Linked DNA regions of Homo sapiens. The protein of the gene in region 3 purifies or fractionates together with the protein of the main gene of each other region. This does not show direct contact. Each region holds a gene or a part of one and is shown on either strand. Other genes may lie near its edges. The genes, in order: ANXA13, PLEKHH1 and APBB1IP.

Region 1 (7,109 bases), on a different chromosome or scaffold from region 3:
TTTTTTGTGTAGAGATGGGGTTTTGCCATGTTGTCCAGGCTAATCTCAAACTCCTAGGCTCAAGCGATCCTCCACCTCAGCCTCTCAAAGTGCTGGGATTATAGGCGTGAGCCACCATGACCCCAGCCTGCCATCTATTCTGACAAGCACCTGTCTTCCTCTTTTCTTTGAGCACCCTCTTTTCACAAGAAAACTAACTACCTTCTCCCTGTCTCCCTCTGACAATGTGGTTTAACAGGAGAAATGGTCAAGGATGGGCATCAGCCTACCTAGAGTAGTTAATGCCCTAACTTAAACCAAAGACCTTCACATAGAGCGACAGCCTGGGATGGCTCAGATTGGAGGCCCATAGACAAGCTGGCATTTCAAGGACACAAACTATAGCATAGGGTGGGCAGCTCCCCAGCAGTGTGGCATGGTGGCAAAGAACACAGCCACAGTACCTTTGTGACCTTGGAAATGTACTTAATCTCACCAACTGTCAGTTTTCAGCTCTAGAAAATGGAGACAGTGCTAGACTGACCTCACAGGGTTTTTGGGAGAATTAAATGTGACAATCCTTGTCAATACTGAGCATTACTGCCTGACATATTTTAAACGGTCAATAAATGCTTATCATTAATCTCCCATGCTGAAAAAAATTTTCTAAGAGGAGGCACATCAACTATTTTTCAAATGAAGCTCTGAGCTCTTGGCCTGGGAGAAAAACCCGGAATATTTTTGTCCAAAGCCCTGGGATCTGCAGTCCTACAAGGGGGCTGTTATATTATGCCTCCGCCCCACAGTGGCTGCTCCAGCCAACACTGCATCTTGTGAAGGCAGGTCTGTGGTCAGTACTCTATGGTGTGGAGTCATCTAAAAATTGGAAATATATTTTCAGGCCAGATGGGCATTATATAAGCTGCAGAGAAGAAAAATCCCAGCTTCCCACTCTTACAAGCCACAGGCATAAAAACAAATCCTTGTGTGCTTACATTCTGACTGGACAGAGTAGAAGGCTCGGGATAGCTCAGCTCTACTCCTGGTTTTCCTGCTGACTCTGTTACCACGGGGTGGTTATTCTCTTTGGAGGTCAACTGACACGGGGCTGAGATTGGATCATACCTAACATCTTCTAGCTTTGCGTTGTTGGGATTCTAGATTATCTGTTTGGCAGTCTCAGTTCTCTGAAACACAGCTGAGAACCAGAAAGTAAGCAAATGATTGGCAAATGAAGTATCACAAAGTTTTGTGCCAGAACATGCCCATTTAAGTTTTAACAGGGCCCCTAGGCTTTCAGTTTGAATCCATTTACTCTTCTTTAGACTAAAGACTAAAGATTAAGAAGCATTGTATCCGATTTTTCTTTCTTTCTTTCCTTCTTCCTCTCTTTCTTTCTCTCTCTCTTTCATTCTTTTGTTCTTTCTTTTTCTTTCCTTCCTTCCCTTCTCTCCCTTCCTCTCCACCTCCCTTTCTCTCTTTTTCTTTTCTTTTCTTTCTTTCCTTTCCACAGGGTCTCTCTCTGTCACCCAGGCTGGAGTGCAGTGGTGCAACTACGGCTCACTGAGGCCTCAACTTCTTGGGCTTAAGCAACCCTCCAGCCTCAGCCTCCTGAGTAGCAGGGACTACAGGCACACACCACCATGCCCAGCTAATTTTTTATTTTTGGTAGAGATGAAGGTCTCAACTGGTCTCAAACTCCTGGGCTCAAGTGATCCTCCTGCCTTGGCCTCCCAAAGTGTTGGGATTACAGGTGTGAGCCACCTTGCCTGGACTGACTTTTCATATTGGTAGGGTGAATGTGTCTTGGGAGGCTACTGGAGTTAGGGATGTTGACAGGGATAAAAATTCAGCTTCAGGCCAGGCACGGTGGCTCACACCTGTAATCCTGGCACTTTGGGCTGATGTGGGCAGATCACGAAGTCAGGAGTTTGAGACTAGCCTGACCAAAATTAAAATACAAAAATTTTACTAAAAACACAAAAATTAGCTGGGCATGGTGGCGCGTGCCTGTAATCCCAGCTACTCAGGAGGCTGAGGCAGGAGAATCGCTTGAACCCGGGAGGCAGAGGTTACAGTGAGCCAAGATTATGCCACTACACTCCAGCCTGGGCAACAGAGTGAGACTCCGTCTCAAAACAAAACAAAACAACAACAACAAAAAAAACCACACACACATTCAGCTTCATGCATTCAATTAAATGCAGTTGAACTGAAGATGCACTTATTTTCATCAAAAATTACATTGACGCACCTAATAGTAAGGAGAGAAGCAGAAAAAGCACAAAAGCACAGCCATTTGGGCCATTTAGTGTACAAGCAAATAGCTCTATTTATGGCACTGGGTCCTCCAGGAATGGATACTGTTCTTGAAGTCAGGAGACTTGGATGTGAGACTTGGATGTGAGTCCTGGTTCTCTTTTTTTTTTTTAGGTGTGTGATTTTGTAAAATGGAAACAATCATAGCTATCATAGCTTTTTCCTGTATTGGTACATGCTGGCATTATCCTGACTGATTCTCCCAGCAACCTGAGAAGGGAGCTAAGTTATCATCTTCTTTCTATCCATGAAAAGACCAAGGCCTGAAGCAATTGTTACCTGCTCAGTATCAAATAAATAGGAAAACCCATCTTCATCTTTCTATATATCTATTTATACCTACAGTGATTGAAATGGTAAAAGTTTGAAAAATATAAATGAGAATACAGCATAATAATTGATATTCATTTTGCATAATGATAATTCTAATGACATTAAGAAAAGTTTAAGTTGTGTTCATTACATATTAATAAAGAAATAAGAAAGCCTAATGCATACTTGAAGACTTCTCTCTATAAAATTATTTTCAACAATAAAAAGAATGAAAGAAAAGAAAGAAAATGTAAAGAAAAATAGGTGTTGATAGCTTAATAAAATGGAGAGTTTTTTTGGTAGTTTTCTGTAACAATCGCTTATGAAAAATTCCTGTATAAAGACCCACTTGTGGAAACTGATTTTCAAATTACTGATCTAGCTACATATGTACAGTTAGTCCCAATTAAGTGAAAAAAAGACTAGGGTCTTCATAGAAAAATGAAGTCAATTTAAGAAATGAGTTTAAGAGTATTGATTTTACAGGCTATTGAGTTAACAAAGCAATTTCAGTTTTTCTGAACTCCATTAATGCTTTTAAGTGGTTATTTCACTTTTCCTCCTGGGCTGACTCAATAAAGCTATAAAGATATTCTGCGTGGCCTGGGGACATGAGGAAGCCGAGACGGCTGAGGCCATGGCTGGGTGCAAGCTTGCTGACCACCCCTGGAATCACCTTGCCGTACGTTGCCTTGTACTTTTGCTTGATTTGTTGCCTCTCATCTGATGTCCTGCCCGATAAGATTTCAATGATGGCTGCTTCATTGGTCCCTAAAATACAGGAGAAACAAACAAAGCCACAGTGAATAAGAAACAAGGTGGAAGTTTATTTTAGTCCAGGGTGAGGAAGCCAGGACTCACAGCTTAAAGGTGGTTGGAGGTGTCTATGGAACCCAACGGACCCTTAGCTTTGATGCCTTGTGCTGAAAACTGTATTCTTTTCATTCACTTAGACAAATAGCCATTGAGGCCTCACAGCACATGGCACACAGTGCTAGGCATTGTGGTGGAAAGAGGAACGAGTATGGCTGGTTCCTTAATTTTATTCCTAGGGAAATGAAAACATATGTCCACCCAACAATTGCATGTGAATGTTCATAGCAGCATTACTCATAATAGCTCAAACGTGGAAGCAGCCCCAGTGTTCATCACCTGAAGATGAATAAACAAAATATGGGGTATCCATACAATGGAATGTTATTTGGCCAGAAAAAGGAATAAATTACTGATAGATGTTATAACATGGATGAACCTTGAGAACATTATGCTAAGTGAAAGAAGTCAATCATAGCAGATCACATGTTATATAATTCCATTCGTATGAAAGTCCGGAACAGGAGAATATACAGAGGCTGGAAGTATACTAGTGGCTGGGGGTGGGTGGGCTGCCTAGGGGGATGGTAGCTGGAGTCCAGGGCTGCTTTTTGAAGTGATGAAAATGTTCTAAAATTGACTGTGGTGGTGGTTGCATGCATCTGTGAGTATAATAAAAACTGTTGAATTGAACACTTTAAATGGGTGAATTATATGGTGCATGAATTATATCTCAATTAAAATGTTTTAAAAAACAAAAAGGAAAAAGATGGCCTGTTCCTTGGCCTCTGGGTGCTTACAATTGCATGAACAAGATTAGGATATAGGCTGAAACTGTTACAATATTAACCCCACCCATACATTTGTTAATCTCAGGAGAGAAGTCTTGATTGAAACCATGAAGGGAGGTTGCCCCTTTTAACTCCTATTACCTTTAGATTATGTTATTTTTAGAAGCTTTTTTACCCCTGATGCTCAAAGTAATACAAGCTCATGGCAGCAATTTGATCAGTACTGAAAACTATAGTGAATAAGAAAGAAGGGGAGAATGTCCTTGTTTGAACCAGGAACCAGGATCGGAAAGATGACACAGGTATTTCCAGTGTGCGAATAAGAAAGACGGTTTTACCATCAAACCCCACATTAGATTTATTCAGGTTGGACTCAAATCACAGCTCCACCCTGTACCGACTGCATGACATTGGGCAAGTGATTTTTCTTGCCAAGTCTCAGTTTTCCCACCTCTAAGATGAGGGTAATAGTATACAAGGCTATTGTGAGAATGAAATGCGAGAATCCAAGTGTGGGTCCAGTCCGCGGTGGTCCTAAGCACGCACGTGGGAAACCCGGGACACCAGGGGATGTAAATGACCACGCGCCTGGCACTGCCTCACATCCATGCAGGGTGTGCACAGGGACCACCCTCCATGAACTGCTCACCCCAGTGATCGAGCTCGGTGGGATCAAGGCACAGCAGTCAGCAATCTCTGGAGCTGGAGGAAATGTTAGAGACTATCTAGTCCAAGCTCTTCTTTACAGAAGAGGAAGCTGAGGCACAATGCAGCACCTCTTCTCGGTTCCTGCATGTACCTGACTGTTCTGCAGCATTTGAATTCTGCAGTCGGGAATTATTTTTTTTTTTTGAGACAGGGTCTGGCTATGTCACCCAGGCTAGAGCGCAGTGGCATGATCACTGCAACCTCCACCTCCTGGGTTCAAACAATTCTCCTGCCTCAGCCTCCCGAGTAGCTGGGATTACAGGCACCCACCACCATGCCCAACTAATTTTTGTATTTTTAGTAGAGATGGGGTTTCACCATGTTGGTCAGGCTGGTCTCAAACTCCTGGCCTCAGGTGATCCACCTGCCTCAGCCTCTTAAAGTGCTAGGATGACAGGCATGAGCCACCGCACCCGGCCTGCGGTTGACAATTCTTTGCGTGAAACACCTTCCTAGATGGCTTTGTACCTCCTTTCCCAGTCTTTCCTTTCTCCTCTCCATCACCTCCCTCTCAGGGTTCTTGATTGGCCTGTATTCTTCCACTGGCCTTTTAAACTCGATTTTCAGTTCTCCTCTCTATTGGAGTCACTCCTTTCCCAGGCGACTTTCGCCCTTTGACTGATGACTCCAGGATCAGCGCCTCTAGCCCTAATCTCTCCTCTGAGTTCAGATCTTATTTCCAGCTGCCTGTAGTCAACTTCCCACGGATCTCCCAAGGCATTTCAACTTCCATTGTAGCTTAAACCAAACTCATTTTGTCTATCCTTAAATCCACTCCTCATCCTGTTCCTTTGTCTCAGTGCATGGCATCACACGGATTAGAGAAAATCCAAAGTCACCTTTGAGGGCCCATCAGTCTTTTTTACTCTCAAATACTACCAAGTCCTGCCTGTCTCACCTATGAGACAACTCTTTTACCTGTTCCTCTTCTTCATTCCTTCTGTCACTGCCTAACAGGTCCTAAGTGTTTTTAGCCTTCACCCCGATACCAGGCTCTGATCTCTGCAGTCCACCCTGGGAAGCTCGCATGTGTTCACTTCACACCATACTTTAAATACCTTTAGTGATTCCTCTTGACTCCTAGAATTACATCAGAATCCCTTATGGTGGCATCGAGACTTCCCGCAGTTTGGTGTCATGCTACTCTTCTAGATCCATCTCTGCACAGAGCAGCCCAAGGCTTACTCACCTAATCTCAGCCACACTTGTTAAGTTTCTGCTTCCTCTGTTTTGGCACAGCACACTATTTACATGTATGTTTCTAGGATCACTGCAGTGATTATCCAAGACTGCAGTAGTGACATTCTGAGCCCGACACCTGGGCTCTAGGGAGTGGCCACTACATGGCAGTGTGTGCTGTTACAGTGTCACTTACTGCTGTCTTGCTCTGGTTGGTGTGTGGACCTAGATGATGGCTGCCACCCAGCTGAGCCATCAGGATCCTGAAGGAACAAGATCGTGCAATGCATTTTGATGGAAGGGTTGAGAGTAGGAAAAATCTAGGCCATGGGGATGGGAAATGAATGGAGGGAAACTAGCTGGAGATGGGGTAGAGAAAAAAAAGGGAGCCCTGGCAAAAAAATGTGAGCTGTTTAACCCTCCTTCTGCTCCAGCACCAGCCCTCAGAGTCAGCTTTGGAAAGACAGAGAGGCGACTTGGAAAGACAGGCCTGAGCAGGGGTCTGATGTGACAACCATGTTCCAAACCTTTGGGTCCTTGAACCGTTCACTTAACCTCAAAGAGTATTTTCACCTCTACAGCTCTGGGAACATTTAGCTGTTTGGTTTCAATTGGAGAAACAGAATTCTAGGAGGATCTCACTTGCAAAAATAGCAGGAGTGAGTTGCCTGCCTGGTGCTGGCTTGGTTTCAACACTGGGATTCACGTTGTCCTCCTTCATTTCCTCCCGGAGCTTCGCCTCCATCGTGGGAATCCAATTACTCATTCTATGACACTATTATGATTTTTAAAAAAAAACTTCGGAGTGTCAGAAATCTCACTTCAAAAGGGATTTCTTTTTCTTGTAAATATCTCTTGAGCCTACCTCTTTCTTTCCATTCAGGCCACTCCTGTCCCAGACGAGGGCCTTGGCCTCTCAGGCCTGGATCCTGGCAGGTGCCAAGCCCGGAAGGAGCCTTTCTGCGTGCAGGAGACCCACTCACTGTACTGGGCCAGCCAGGAAGCTGG
Region 2 (7,109 bases), on a different chromosome or scaffold from region 3:
TCCCCACCCTTGGCCACCAACCAGATCATTGCTTCTGAAGTATTTCTACCAGACAGATATCAAGACATTTTATCCAATGTTACAAGTAAGGAAGCTGGCCTGGCGCAGTTGCCTATAATCCCAGCACATTGAGAGGCCTAGGCAGGTGAATCACTTGAGGTCAGGACTTTGAGACTAGCCTGGCCAACATGGTGAAACCCCGACTCTACTAAAAATATAAAAATTACACTTTGGGAGGCTGAGGCGGGCGGATCACGAGGTCAGGAGATCGAGACCATCCTGGCTAACATGGTGAAACCCCGTCTCTACTAAAAATACAAAAAATTGGCCGGGCGTGGTGGCAGGTGCCTGTGGTCCCAGCTACTTGGGAGGCTGAGGCAGGAAAATGGCGTGAAACTGGGAGGCAGAGCTTCCAGTGAGCTGAGATTGTGCCACTGCACTCCAGCCTGGGCAACAGAGCAAGACTCTGTCTCAGAAAAAAAAAAAAAACAGTTAGCCGGGCATGGTGGCACACACCTGTAATTCCAGCTACTTGGGAGGCTGAGGTGGGAGTACCACTTGAACCTGGGAGGCGGAGGTTGCAGTGAGCCGAGACCGTGCTACTGCACTTCAGCCTGGGTGACAGAGCAAGACTCTGTCTCGAAAAAAAAAAAAAAAAAAAGCCAGGCTCAGTGGCTCATACTTACAATCCCAGCACTTTGGGAGGCCCAAGAGGGTGGATCACCTGAGGTCAGGAGTTTGAGGCCAGCCTGACCAACATGGTGAAACCCTGCCTCTACTAAAAATACAAAATTAGCTGGGCGTGGTGGTGCATGCCTGTAATCCCAGCTACTTGGGAGGCTGAGGCGGGAGAATTGATTGAACCCAGGAGGCAGAGGTTACAGTGAGCCAAGATCATGCTATTGCACTCCAGCCTGGGCAGTAAGAGTGAAACTCTGCCCCCTCACCCCCACCCCCCAAAAAAAAGAAAAGAAAAAGAAAAACAAAGAAAGAAAAATAGCCAACACTTACCTACCACCTACTGTGAACCACTACTGTAAGTACTTTCACAACAACCCTATAAAGTAGGTACTATTATCCCCATTTTATAGACAGGGAAGCTGAGGCACAGAGGTTCAGTAACATGTCCAAGGTCACGTAGTTAACAGTTCAACCCTAGTGGTTTGCTTCTGGGGCCTATGCTCTTGACCATCATACCAGACCACCTGAAAGACTCACAAAGATTAAATGAGAAAAGGTATGCAGGGCACCCAGCTCAATGTATGGTGCACGGTGAGCACTCAGGAAATGACAGCCAACCGCCATTCACATCATTCTGAATTCTGGCGCTGACCCTCACTGGTTGTGTGGTCTGCACAGGCTCCATGGTACCTGCCTGCCAGGGCCACCATGAGGATGCCAGCAGCCTCCTCTCCTGCTCAGTGCATGGCTGTGCTCAGCCAGCAGTGTTCTTGCCATTAGCTCTGCTCCTCTGCCCAGCCCGGAGGTTGCCTCTTACCCAGGATGAAAACTGGTGCAGCGGGGGTGTAGGTGGCTTGTTACCCAGCTCCACTTCCTCCAGCTCAGCTCCAAGGGCCTTTGGGCTCTCTCTTTCCTCATTCTTCCCTGCTGGGGGTGGCTCCTCCATCTCCATCTTCTCTGGTTCCTCCCGGGACCTAGCTCGGGACTCCAGCTCAGGAAGGCCAGAGGGGTGGAGGGCTGAGAAGGCCTCAGTCTCAATGTTCACCACACGGCCAAAGTGCCCATGGCCCACCTGGGGCTGGCTGTGGTGCCTTTTGGCCAACTGGATGCTGTCCCGCGGGGTGCCAGGAGCCCGCACCTTTGGTAGGGTCAGACTGCTGCCAGGACCACCTTCCCTGGCAGAGGTCTTTGTCCCAGGGAGCATCCCTCTCTGAGCAGTAACCAGACCCTCACCCCAGGAAGCTGAACTACATCTGAAGGTAAGAAGCTTCATGCATGGCTGGTGGGGAGGGCTCTCTCTTCCCAGATGAGGTTGAAGGGGCTTGGCCTCTACTGTTTCCCCAGAATGGACCGTGCTGGAACTAGAATCCTCCAAGGGGCTTGCTGCTTCAGAAACAGAGTCCTTGCTCTGCAGGGCACCTGGGGAAGGTGCAAGCACAGCTGCCTTCAGACCCTGGGCCTGGGAGCCACTGTCCTGGCCCATAGGCTGGATTCCCGGCTCTGAAGGGACAGAATCCTGCTCTGCAGCTCCGTAGGGGGGCACCAGCAGCTTCCGTGAAGGAGCTATCTGAATAGCTGTGATTCGGGTAAAAACAGTCACATTGAGAGCTCCCGTAGCTCAGCCCCATACCCACCAAACACACGTACTGCACACCTGCACACCCTGGCCTGCCTACCTTCTAGCGCATCTTGAAGGGATCCCACCTGCTCCACCAGGCGCTGATTATGGCTTTTCAGATGCTGATTCTCCATCTCAAGCTGAGCAAAAAGAAAAATGAAGATTTAGGACACCCAGCCTACAGGTTTAGATGTATTTTTTCAATTCTTTTTTTTTTTTTTTTTGAGACAGGGTCTTGCTCTGTTGGCCAGACTGAATTGCAGTGGAGCAATTTTGGCTCACTGCAGCCTTGACCTCCCAGGCCCAACTGATCCTCCCACCTCAGCCTCCTGAGTAGCTGGGACCATAGACACACACCACCAGGCCCAGTTAATTTCGTTTATTTTTTTGTAGAGACAAGCTCTCGCTATGTTGCCCAGGCTGGTCCCAAATTCCTGGACTCAAACGATCTGCCCACCTCAGCCTCCCAGAGTGCTGGGATTACAGGCATGTGCCACTGAGCGTGGCTGCTGCATATTCTTTTCTTTTCTGAGACAAGGTCTGGCTCTATCACCCAGGCTGGAGTGCAGTGGTGCAATCTTGGCTCACTGCAACCTCTGCCACCAGGGCTCAAACCATCCTCCCACCTTAGCCTCCCACCTCAGCCTCCCGAGTAGCTGGGACTACAGGTGCACGCCACTATGCCCGGCTAATTTTTGTATTTTTTGTAGAGACAGAGATTTGCCATGTTGGCCAGGTTGGTCTCAAACTCCTAGTGTCGAGCAATCCACCCGCCTAGGTCTCCCAAAGTGCTGCTGGGACTACAGGTGTGAGCCACTGCCCCCAGCCTGCATTTTCCTTTAAATTAAGTCCAACACACTTTTATTGAGTATCTTTTAGCAAGGGTTGGGACTGTGAGAATACGCAGGTAAGCCAGGCATCAGTTCTGTCTCCAAGAACTTGCAGTCTAGCAGGTGACCTGAGATGTACATCCAAAGAAGGGGATAGGAGGCCAAATGAGCTGATACCCTCCTGCAGGTGTGAACCACTTGTGTGAGGACAGAGGAAAAGATGTATGTTTGTCAGCCGGGTGTGGTGGCTCACACCCGTAATCCTAGCACTTTGGGAGGCTGAGGCGGGCAGATCACCTGAGGTCAGGAGTTCAAGACTAGCCTGGCCAACATAACGAAACCCCGTCTCTACCAAAAGTACAAAAATTAGCCAGGCGTGGTGGCGTGTGCCTGTAATCCCAGCTACTCAGGAGGCTGAGGCAGGAGAATTGCTTGAACCCAGGAGGCAGAGGTTGCAGAGAGCCGATATTGTGCCATTGCACTCCAGCCTGGGAAACAAGAGCGAGACTCCGTCTCAAAAAAAAAAAAAAAAAAAAGATATATGTTCATCCTTTTCCAAACTGCAATTCCCACTCCTTTTATTTAGAAGGAGGTTGTTTTCTGTCTGTTGGTGATAGCACTGTAGCTTCAAGTCCTGAGTTTCCTAAATAAAGGTACAGCACGTGATAAACTACAAAAATGGATAGATAGAGAGGGAAGGTGGAATAGAGGTTACCAGGCGATGGGGGAAGAGAGAATGGGAAGTTAGTGTTTAGCAGGTACAGAGTTTCTGTTTGGAAAAATTTTAGACATAGATAGCAGTGATGGCTGCACAACACTGTGAATGTACTTAATGCCACTGAATTGCTGAATTGTACACTTAAATGGTACATTTTATGTATATTTTACCACACACACACAAATAGTTAAAAAGAATGAAGAGGATGGAAGAGAAAGTAGCAGGGCACGGTGGTTCCCTCCTTTAATCCCAGCACTTTGGGAGGCCGAGGTGGGTGAATCACCTGAGGTCAGGAGTTCGAGACCAGCCTGGCCAACATGGTGAAACCTGTCTCTACTAAAAATACAAAAATTAGCTGGGCATGGTGGTGCGTGCCTGTAACCCCAGCTACTCAGGGAGGCTGAGGCACGAGAATCGGTTGAACCCGGGAGGCGGAGGTTGCGGTAAGCCGAGATTGCGCCACTACACTCCAGCCTGGGCGAGAGAGCGAGACTCTGTCTCCAATAAATAAATAAATAAATAAAAATAAAAGAGAAAGTGGAGAGAGTGGACACTGGCCTGTGTGGGCTTCCTAGAAAGAAACTGAGGGGGCTTTTCAGAAGTGAGACACATTCCTTCTCGCAAACTTAAATCCAGCACCAAGCTAGTCAGGAGCTCCAGGGAGACCCAACCAAGACAAAAGGAAAGGGGAAGTGAACTACGGTGTCTCAGCATGGAGGCTGAATGCAAAACAAGTGCTGGACAGAATGAAGGTCAGCCGAGGCACCCTAGACAGTAGGGGGCAGGAAACTCCGGGGGTCAGGGCAGGCCCAGCCATGCCTCTGGCAGGCCTCCAAGATGAGTTTCCAACCCACCTTTGCCAACTTGAGTGTCACCCATTCCTTGATCTTTGCAGCTTTTTCTTGAACAGTTTTTGCTTCCTCTGCCCTCATCTGCTTCTGCAAGAAAGAGAGGGCCTTCCGTTAATCCCAACAATCACCAGGAGAGTGACTGACTGGAGGTGGGAAACCCCAAGAAAGGCCAAGTGTGCGTGCCACTGACCTCGCAAAGCCAGTGAGCAGAAATCGTTTGTTGAAATATTATTTGATAAGGTAACACAAAATTTAAAAACTCAAAACTGGAAATAGTCTAAGTGTTCACCACGAAGGGGTTGGCTGAATAAACGCGGCATATCCCTGACATGGAAGGAGAACGCTGTGCCTCCATATGCAAGCAAAGTTAATAGTGAGGAGTAGAAATCAAGGACTGGGGAGGGAGAGAGAGGTGACTTGTCATTTTATACTCCTCTGGCCGTTTTTTTATTTTTAACTATAAGCATGTGTTACCTTTATAGTTAAAAAACAAAAAAATAAGGCAAAATTGCAGATAACTGAGGTATTTCCATCAAAGTAGTCAAAAGAGGAGATGATTGAAAAGGTTGGCATCTGAAGAGGAGCAGCCTGGCTGGGCATGGTGGCTCATGCCTATAATCCCAGCATCAGACAACGTCAGACTCTCAGTATTTCAGAGCTGGAAGGACCTTAAAGGTCATCTAGTTTAAGGTGTGGCAAACAATGGCCTTCAGGCCACATCCAGTCCTCCACCTGCTTGCCCCCACCCAGACCTGTTTTTGTAAATAAAGTTGCATTGTAATACAGCCATGCTCATTCATTTACGTATTATCTGTGGCTGCTTCCATGTTACAACAGCAGCTTTGACCAGTTGCAACAGAGACCTGTGGCCCACAAAACATAAAATAGTTACTACCTGGACTTTACAGAAAAAGTCGGCCAACCCTGACCTGGTTTGATATTGTCTTTGTGCTTCTGTGGCAACTAAGGCTATGGCAAGAAGTGACTTGCCTCTGTCCATTCATGGCACAGCTGGGACTAAAACCAGGTCTCTTGACTCACAAAACAGTGCCTTTTCTTTTATGAGATTGACCTACTGATTCCAATTGTAAAATGACCTTTTTTCTGACCTAAGGAGCTTTAGCAGGAGTCATTTTGTCCACCAACCCCCAAGATGCTGCCACTTCTAACTATGAGCTACTCAGAAGAGAAGGTATGTCTAAAATCAATGGAAGAATTGATCAGAGATTCCATGTGTCAAAATTCTATTCTTCCATCAATTTTCAGGAGCACATGGTACCCCACAGCATACAAAGGCACCTCCATTAAGGGCCTATTGGGTTAATGCTGATGGGTAAACATGAATCTGCCCATTATGGTTGGAAGGCACCACCAGGATCGGCTTCTCCTACATGGAGAAGGCATGTGTAGGAAATTAAAAGTCATCTGTCCAGACTGTGGGGTGTTTAGTTGGAAATGATGGCATTCTGGCACGAGGGGAAAGCTGGGTAGGTAAGGCCAGTGGCAGAGGAAAGGGACAGAACTGGGATGGAGTTGGTGAGATTGTGAAGGGGAGAAGGCAGGACACAGGAACTGGCAGGTAGATGTTCCAGAAGTCCTCTCAGGAGCAAAGGTGCCAAGTGGAGCTGAAATGCTGGGCAGTGGCCTCTCCTGGGCTCCCATGTGCTCAGAAGGGAAGACCCTGGTTTTCTGAGGAGGCAACAACTTTGGTCTCTGCCTCTTCAGCTTCACTAAGAAACTTTGGGCAACCAGCTGGCCACGACTGACCATCCAGCTCTGTGCAGCTCTGATCATACTACAGCCAAGTATCAAGTATCTCATCTTGGCAGGGCACGACAAGGCCAGAATGGAGAAAGAAAAGTTCTCCTTACCAAGTACTGACCACGTGCCTGACACTAGGCACAGGTCACATAGGTTGCCTCTCCCAGCAGCTCTATGAGGTGTTTCCACCCTTCTTTTATAAATGTGTAAAATAAGAATCAGTGACTTAAACACTTTGCCCACTGTCAGAGGCAGCAGGTGCTAGAGGTGGGCTTCACACCCAGATCAGTCTGCCTCCAAGCTCCTTTTTCTACTCTATCCCCTGCCTGGCTTCTAATGAGCAGATGTGGGAGGAACAGTCCTTCCTATAATTAAATTTTCACATAAAAGAATAGGCTCAGGAGGGAGCGAGTTCCCCAGCACTAGAGGGCTTGAGCGGAACAGCTCAGGAAGCTGGGGGCCAGCAGTACAGATGTCGAAGAGGGCATGGTGCTCCCTTGCGCATGAGCCCTTACCTGCTTCTCCAGCTGAGCCTCTAGCTGGCTGATGAGCTCATCTTTGCCCTTTATGGCTTTCAGCAATTCTTGGTATTTCCGGTGCAGGCTCCCCTCAGAGTCCACATTCTTCAGATTGGATAGTTTTACCTTCTC
Region 3 (7,109 bases):
CTTGGCCACCGCGGGGGGCGGCCTGGCGGAGTCGGGGACGGGGGCGGGCGCGGGCGCGGGCGGCGGCGGCGGCGGCGGGGGCAGCTCTGAGCCCGCGATCCCTGCGTACGACGGCGGGGGCGGGGGCACGAAGTCTGGGGGCGGCTCCATGAAGTCCGGGGGCGGCGGCGGGAGCTCAGGGTCATCGAGGGGCGGCGGCGGTGGCGGCGGCGGCAGGAAGTCGTCGGGTGGGGCGGGCAAGCCCCCGCCGCCTGTGCCCTTGGCCTTGAGGGGCGTGGCGGGACTGCCGCTGGTGTCGGAGGACCTCCGCACCGGAGGGGGCGGGGGCAGGCTGGACTTGGGGGCGTGCGGGGCCCGGGGCACTGCCGGGTCGTGGTGGTTCCCGAGGGCTGGCTTCTTATCCTGCAACCGAGTGGCAGTAGCATTCATTTTTTTTTTAATTTTTGAAATTTTAAATTTATTGTTATTAATTAATGGAGACGGGGTCTCACTCTGTCGCCCAGGCTGAGTGCAGTGGCGCGATCTGGACTTACTGCAGCCTCGACCTCCCGAGCTCAAGCAATCCTCCTGCCTCGACCTCCCGAGTAGCATTCCTTATTCTCAAGGCAGCCCCAGTGGACAAAACAGCCCTAGTGGACAGGGCCATGCCATAGATATGTGAGTCTCTGTCCGCCCCCTGGGGAGCCTCTGTCCCTCAGTCACTGAGACTCCTGGTCGGTCATGAGCTCATCTTTGTTCTGGAATAAGGCAATTATTCTAAATGGTCTTTAAAATTAAAAATAATCATTTTTCTAATTTTTTAATATTTTGGCTGGGCATGGTGGCTCATGCCTATAATCTCAGCACTTTGGGAGCCCAGGCAGGTGGATCACTTAAGTCCAGGAGTTCAAGACCAACCTGAACAATATGGTGAAACCTTTTCTCCTTTAAAAATACAAAAATTAGCCTGGTATGGTGGCAGACGCCCGTAGTCCCGGCTACTGGGGTGGCTAAGGCATAAGAATTGTTTTAACTTGGAAGGTGGAGGATGCAATGAGCTGAGATCATGCCATTGCACTCCAGCCTGGGCAACACAACGAGACTATGTCTCTCTCTCTATATATATTTTTAGAGATGGAGTCTCGCTGTGTTGCCCAGGTTAGTCTCAGACTCCTAGCCTCAAGTGATCCTCCTGCCTCAGCCTCCTGAGTAGCTGGAATTACGGCCACCCCACCTGGCCCAAATGGACTTTAACAGTATTTCCTGTTGTTACAGTGGAACAGCAAAAAAAACGAATGTAACTTACTTCATTTTTGTTTAAAGTGGCCTTTACCCATTCCTGCACATAGGATAATTTTAGAGCACTGATATAAATATGCAAACCCAGCAATCATGTAGTTTTAAAAACTAACTCTGGGATTAAAGAAGTAAACAACTATGTTTTGTTAAAGATTTATATGACCATTGTAACCTGACCAAGGACAGAGTAGTTCCCAACCTCTTTGGACTCTTGTTGGCACCCAGATGTCTGCAGTCTCTGGTCATCTTTTGATCTCAACTCTCTCCCCAACTCTCTCCTCTTCCCCATATCCCACACCCATTAAAATCCTCCAGTTAGCCTGAAAAATTTAAGATTGCACTTTAGAACACTAGTCACCATCTTCATGGTGTTACTGGCTTTCCAAATAAACCACCTTTTCCTCCCATCATCCCTAATCTCTTGAGTCTGGCTTTTAAGTGGTGAGCAGCCAAACCTGGGTTCAGTTACCCTGTGGCACTCATCTACCAAGTCTCCTATAAATGGAAGATCTGGCTATGTTCAATGAGGTGTTTAGATCGTATTTAGATCACATGAGTATCACTTCCTTGGAACTTGCCTTATCCAGGAGTTGCTGTGTGTCTCTAAAGGGGCTTTCGTGGTATATCTCTTGTGGGGTTGGCTCAGTCTATAAACCACCCTCAGCTCATTCATTCCTTCAAAATGGAAGCCAAATGACTTCACTCCTTGGTTCTCAAGCCAAGCCACCAGAGTCCTCGTCATATAGGAAGGGATACATTTTTTCTTGGTCTGAGTTGAGCTGGTTGTGAAGCTCGTGTCAGGAGTAAGCGTCTGTAAAATTATCTTGCTCCTATTCCACACAACACACAGTAGAAACACACAGCAACTCCTGGGGGTTGAGGACTTCCCAAAACCTTCACACAGTCTCCTGGCTTAAATGTCCTACTTTGATTAGGATGAAGGAGATGGAAAGGGAAGAGTGAATGGAAATAGTTCTCTCTTGGCTACAGGTAAGCTTTGTGCAAACGTAGGCACAAAGGATATGTTGCCTGGCAAAGACCTTTCTGCCTGATTTTGGGGACAATGTCTCCTTGTGTTGGTGAGCTGAGAACACAGGTCCATTTTGCCAGGACTGTGGGCTTCTAGGGAGGAGCCGATTACAAGCTTGGCTCCAGCTGGCCTCACAGCTTCAGGGAAGGCAGTGTGGTGGGCCAGGAATCAGGACAGGACATCTGGTCTCTAATAAGTTTACTTTTTCTTTTCTTTATTTTATTTTATTTTTATTTTTATTTTTATTTTTTTGAGGCAGAGTCTCGTTCTGTCACCACGGCTGGAGTGCAGTGGCAGCATCTCCCCTCACTGCAAACTCCACCTCCCGAGCTCAAGCAATCCTCATGCCTCAGCCTCCGGATTAGCTGGAATTACAAGTGTGTGCCAACACCCCCAGCTAATTTTTGTACTTTTTGTAGAGACAGGGTTTCTACATATTGGCCACTCTGGTCTCCAACTCCTGGACTCAGGTGATCCGCCTGCCTCGGCCTCCCAAAGTGTTGGAATTACAGGCGTGAGCCACTATGTCTGGACAGTTTACCATTTCTCAACTGCATGAAACTTGGCTGGTTCACTGGATATAAAATTAGCCCCATAGTCCTCATTATGACTCGTGTCTCAGGTTGTGATGAGATCAAATGAGATAAATATGTGAGTTCTGAAAAGTAAAATCACCAGCATGTGCTATTGGTAGAAACCAGCATGCCAAATTTGGCCTAAGTCTAATAGACGCATAGCCCTTCCTCTGCCAATACTGGAATAGATAATAATAATTTATATAATGAAACATCCCCAGGCAGCTGGATTGAATCCCTCTGTTTTAGTGATAATTATCATTTCAATTTACAGTTTATCAGGGTTCCAGTTCATTTCATTCTCTGCTTAGTGGCCTCTTACCATTGAAGATTAAATTTGGAATTTTTTTCTAATAAAGTGCCTTCTGATTTAGTTTCTATTTTATTTAGTTTATTTACTTCACATGATAAGCTCTTTAACTGGTGATGTATTTTTTCTTTTTATTTAAATTTCTGAACAGGCAGCTTGGGAATTGGTGTTCACATATAGTTAAGTGATTTCTATTCTGAGATTCTTTTATTTCTTTCAGCATTTTTAAATGCTGTCCTTCAATTGGCATTTAGAAATAATGAAAATAATAGTAGCTGAAAGCACATCGCATGAGGAGATTGTCAGGCTTGAGAAGATAATGAGAACATTAAAGAAATACAACGTTTAAAGGTCTGCAGTGGTTGTCAAAATTATAAGTTCGATAAATACCAATATTTAGTTGTTTTCACCACTGGCTGATGGACAAAATGAAGGGGTGAAAGAAGTGAAAAATTGTTGAAGTGAAGCACCCTGCCTGTCCTAGCTGGGTGATATGCTATTGTCACAGTTATTTAAGGTTGTTTTGAATCACACAAGAGAAATATTCAACAGAATATATACAGTCAGCTGAGAAGCTTTGAACTAAATTAGTAACTAAATAATAATTATTAGTTATGATTTTAAGATAGATTTAAAGGAATCTTCACTGATCTATTCGGTTGAAAAAATTTTATGGAGAATTATACCAATTTGGCTATTATTTTACAATGTATTTTCTCCTCCATCACCTGGGGATGTATGTAGGAAGGACATTAATGGGGAAAATAGAAAATACACATTTTTAGTGTAACCCTTCTTTATCTTTTTTCTTTTTTTTAAGACAGGGTCTTTATCTGTCACCCAGGCTGGAGTGTAGTGGTGCAACCAGAGCTCACTGCAGCCTTGAACTCCTGGGCTCAAGGGATCCTCCTGCCTCAGCATCCCAGGTAGTTGGGACTACAGGTGCTCACCACTGTGCCCAGCCCTATTTATAATGTAGCTCTTTTAGCAGTCTTCTAATCTGATTTTGGGGGCCAGTTAGCACTTCATATAGGGCTTCAGACTACTAGTTGCCCTATTTTATTCAAAAAAGGCAAGTAAAATCCCATGGGTTTAAAACTTGGATGTGCTACTATCAGAGAGGGCTAAAATCACTTGACTAAACCAAGAAAACCACTTTGGTCAAAGTAAACATAGCTAATTAACTCCAGAGTTTAAAGGAAATGCTTACATTTTTCCTAAGCAGTGTGATGATAGCTGGTTTTAACTTTTGATTCTAGCATATGTAACTTTAAGATTACAAATATCAAGCAATCAACTAAATTAAATTGTAGTAACTTCTCAGTTGTTGGAACTGCATTTTCTATTTATTTATTTATTTATTTATTTATTTTAAGACTGGATCTTACTCTGTCGCCCAGGCTGGAATGCAGTGGCGCAATCACAGATCACTGCCGCCTTAACCTCCTGGGCTCAAGCAAGTCAAACACCTCAGCCTCCCCAGTAGCTGGGACTACAGGTGCATGCCACCATGCCTGGCTAATTTTTTTTTTCTAGTAGAGACAAGCTCTCGCTATATTGCCCAGTCTGGTCTCAAACTGAAGCTCAAGTGATCCTCCTGCCTCAGCCTCCCAAAGTTCTGGGATTACAGGTGTGAGCTACTGCACTCAGCTTATTTTCTCTTTTTAAAAGAGCAGTTACTGGAATAATGTGAATGGTTTAGAACATGGCTTATAGGGGTCAGCTGCTTGCTGGTTTTACCTTCGATGTTTCAGCATGTCTCTGGGCCTCTTGGAGAACAGCACTGACAGAATGTGTAGCCTGGGGAATCTGTCCATTGGGCTGGGTGGTGCCTGTTTTAGGTCCTGAGAGGGAAGAAGTGAGAAAAGAAGAGTGAGCAAAGCATTTTCAACATTCTTGAAAGTCGATCTGAAAATACAAAGCAGTTTGCATCTCTAAAGCAAAGAAAGATACTTGTTGGCTAGTTCTTACAAAAAAAACAAAAATAAAAACAAAGCAAAGAGAGCAACTCACAGGCATGGCATGGTACACAAAACCTTAAGAAAAATCTGAGGTTCTGTGACAAAACTTTATATGAGATTCAGCAAAAAGATCAGGAAGGTGAGTACGGTATTTGATAAAGCCCACTGAGGAGGGTCTGGACTAACTGGGATCCTGGAGAGTAACAATATGTTTTACTTTTAAAAACTTTTCAGTAATTGAAGAATAAACCTTGAAAACATATTTTTAAAAATTCTTGATTTTTTTAAAATGTATTTATCCAGTTTCACACCACACTGAGTACAGGTACAGGAACAACTCTTCAACATTGTCCTCAACAAAAAGTACATTGGACACAGAAACAACAGACAGAAATTCGGGCAAAATGTGGGGGTCCTTGAAATAATCTGGAATTAGATGTGGTTTTTCCCCCCAAAAGTCCTGGTATGCTATTTTATTTTCCTGCCTTTTAATTTGTCCTTTTGACACAGAACTTTGACTCATGTTACCTTAAAATGTGCTGTCCAGGATTGGGTGCAAGACATCAAAACACCAGGGCATAATCTTATTCTTGGTGTGAACAGTTTTCTGGGCACTAATGGAGCCTTGGACTGATATAATGTTTGTACTTTGATAAGAAACATCTACCTACTAGCTCACTGTAAACAGGAGATCAACACCTCATCCACAGAATATCACGAAAGAAGTGGTCAAAGCTTTGTTAAAAGGCGCTTAAAATAGATACAGGGCTCCAGCCTGGGTGACAGAGCAAGACCTTACCTCCAAAAAAAAAAAAAAAAAGCAAAGAAGAAAAAGAAAACAGGCCAGGTGCAATGGTTCACGCCTGTAATCCCAGCACTTTGGGAGGCTGAGGCAGGTGCATCACGAGGTCAGGAGATCAAGACCACCCTGGCTAACACGGTGAAACCCTGTCTCTACTAAAAATACAAAAAATTAGCCAGGCATGGTGGCGGGCGCTTGTAGTCCCAGCTACTCAGGAGGCTGAGGCAGGAGAACGGTGTGAACCCAGGAGGCGGAGCTTGCAGTGAGCTGAGATCCCGCCACTGCACTCCAGCCTGGGCAACAGTGCGAGAGAGTCTCAAAAAAAAAAAAAAAAAAAAAAAAGAAAGAAAGAAAGAAAAAAAGAAAAGAAAAAGAAAACAGATGTTATAGGGGTGTGTGTGTGAGGGCTGGGCTGAGTCGGGGAGTTTGAGCCTGATCATCAGGTGAGAAACATATTCTGAATGCTGTGTACAAAGTCCTGTTTGTATAGATGTATTGGATACATTTTGAACTGGAGCACCAAGCTTTGAATATGTGTTGGAATTTCTCCTCCACTTAGTACCTGTAGATGGCTGAGCTGGTGCAGCTGCATTGACTGTCCCCAAGTTTGTCCACCGAGAGGCAAGTCCAGCCTTTGCCACAGCCCGCTGGTAGTTATCATAGAGAGTCTTCCCATACTGGGGAGAGAACACAAAGGAAGAAGGAAAGGAATCCATGTATCCCAAATTCTGCACTCAATTGCAATATACATATACAGAAGAAATAAATACTCCACGGCTACTCTGTTCACCACTTGTCTGAGTTGGTTTTTTGGATATTTCCATTAAAATTTAACAAATACACATTCAATCATTTTCCAGATTAACAGAGTCAGTTAATTTTTTCACCTACATATTAGAGAAGAGCTTTGCTCAGTTCTGATTACGTGTGTCTTTATGTAACTCGATCACAGGTTCCATCTTGCGTTTTTTAATTGCACACTAAGCTTGCAATACTCGCCATGAGTAAATATCCGGTTACTGGAGAGGTTCGTGTTTCTATCGCTCCTCCCATTTAGAAAACCCACTGGGCGAATAAACCTGATAATGTCTGTGGCTGAACCCAAGGGTGGGCCAGCTGTTTCACAGTACCAGGAAGGCTGTGCCCAGGTCAG

What was found.
Region 1: the proteins of APBB1IP (region 3) and ANXA13 purify together in Homo sapiens (affinity purification with mass spectrometry; 3 studies listed by BioGRID and IntAct, with this or other methods). This does not show direct contact.
Region 2: the proteins of APBB1IP (region 3) and PLEKHH1 purify together in Homo sapiens (affinity purification with mass spectrometry; 3 studies listed by BioGRID and IntAct, with this or other methods). This does not show direct contact.

The regions. Positions count from the first base shown.
Region 1 is NC_000008.11:123,699,356-123,706,464, forward strand, and holds part of ANXA13 (annexin A13), read right to left. Parts: intron 3,382-7,109; coding exon 3,287-3,381; intron 1-3,286.
Region 2 is NC_000014.9:67,557,284-67,564,392, reverse strand, and holds part of PLEKHH1 (pleckstrin homology domain-containing family H member 1), read right to left. Parts: coding exon 6,975-7,109; intron 4,786-6,974; coding exon 4,702-4,785; intron 2,440-4,701; coding exon 2,358-2,439; intron 2,257-2,357; coding exon 1,499-2,256; intron 185-1,498; exon of another isoform or gene 1-184.
Region 3 is NC_000010.11:26,560,254-26,567,362, reverse strand, and holds part of APBB1IP (amyloid beta A4 precursor protein-binding family B member 1-interacting protein), read right to left. Parts: intron 6,634-7,109; coding exon 6,519-6,633; intron 5,038-6,518; coding exon 4,934-5,037; intron 403-4,933; coding exon 1-402. UniProt on the Homo sapiens protein: Appears to function in the signal transduction from Ras activation to actin cytoskeletal remodeling. Suppresses insulin-induced promoter activities through AP1 and SRE. Mediates Rap1-induced adhesion.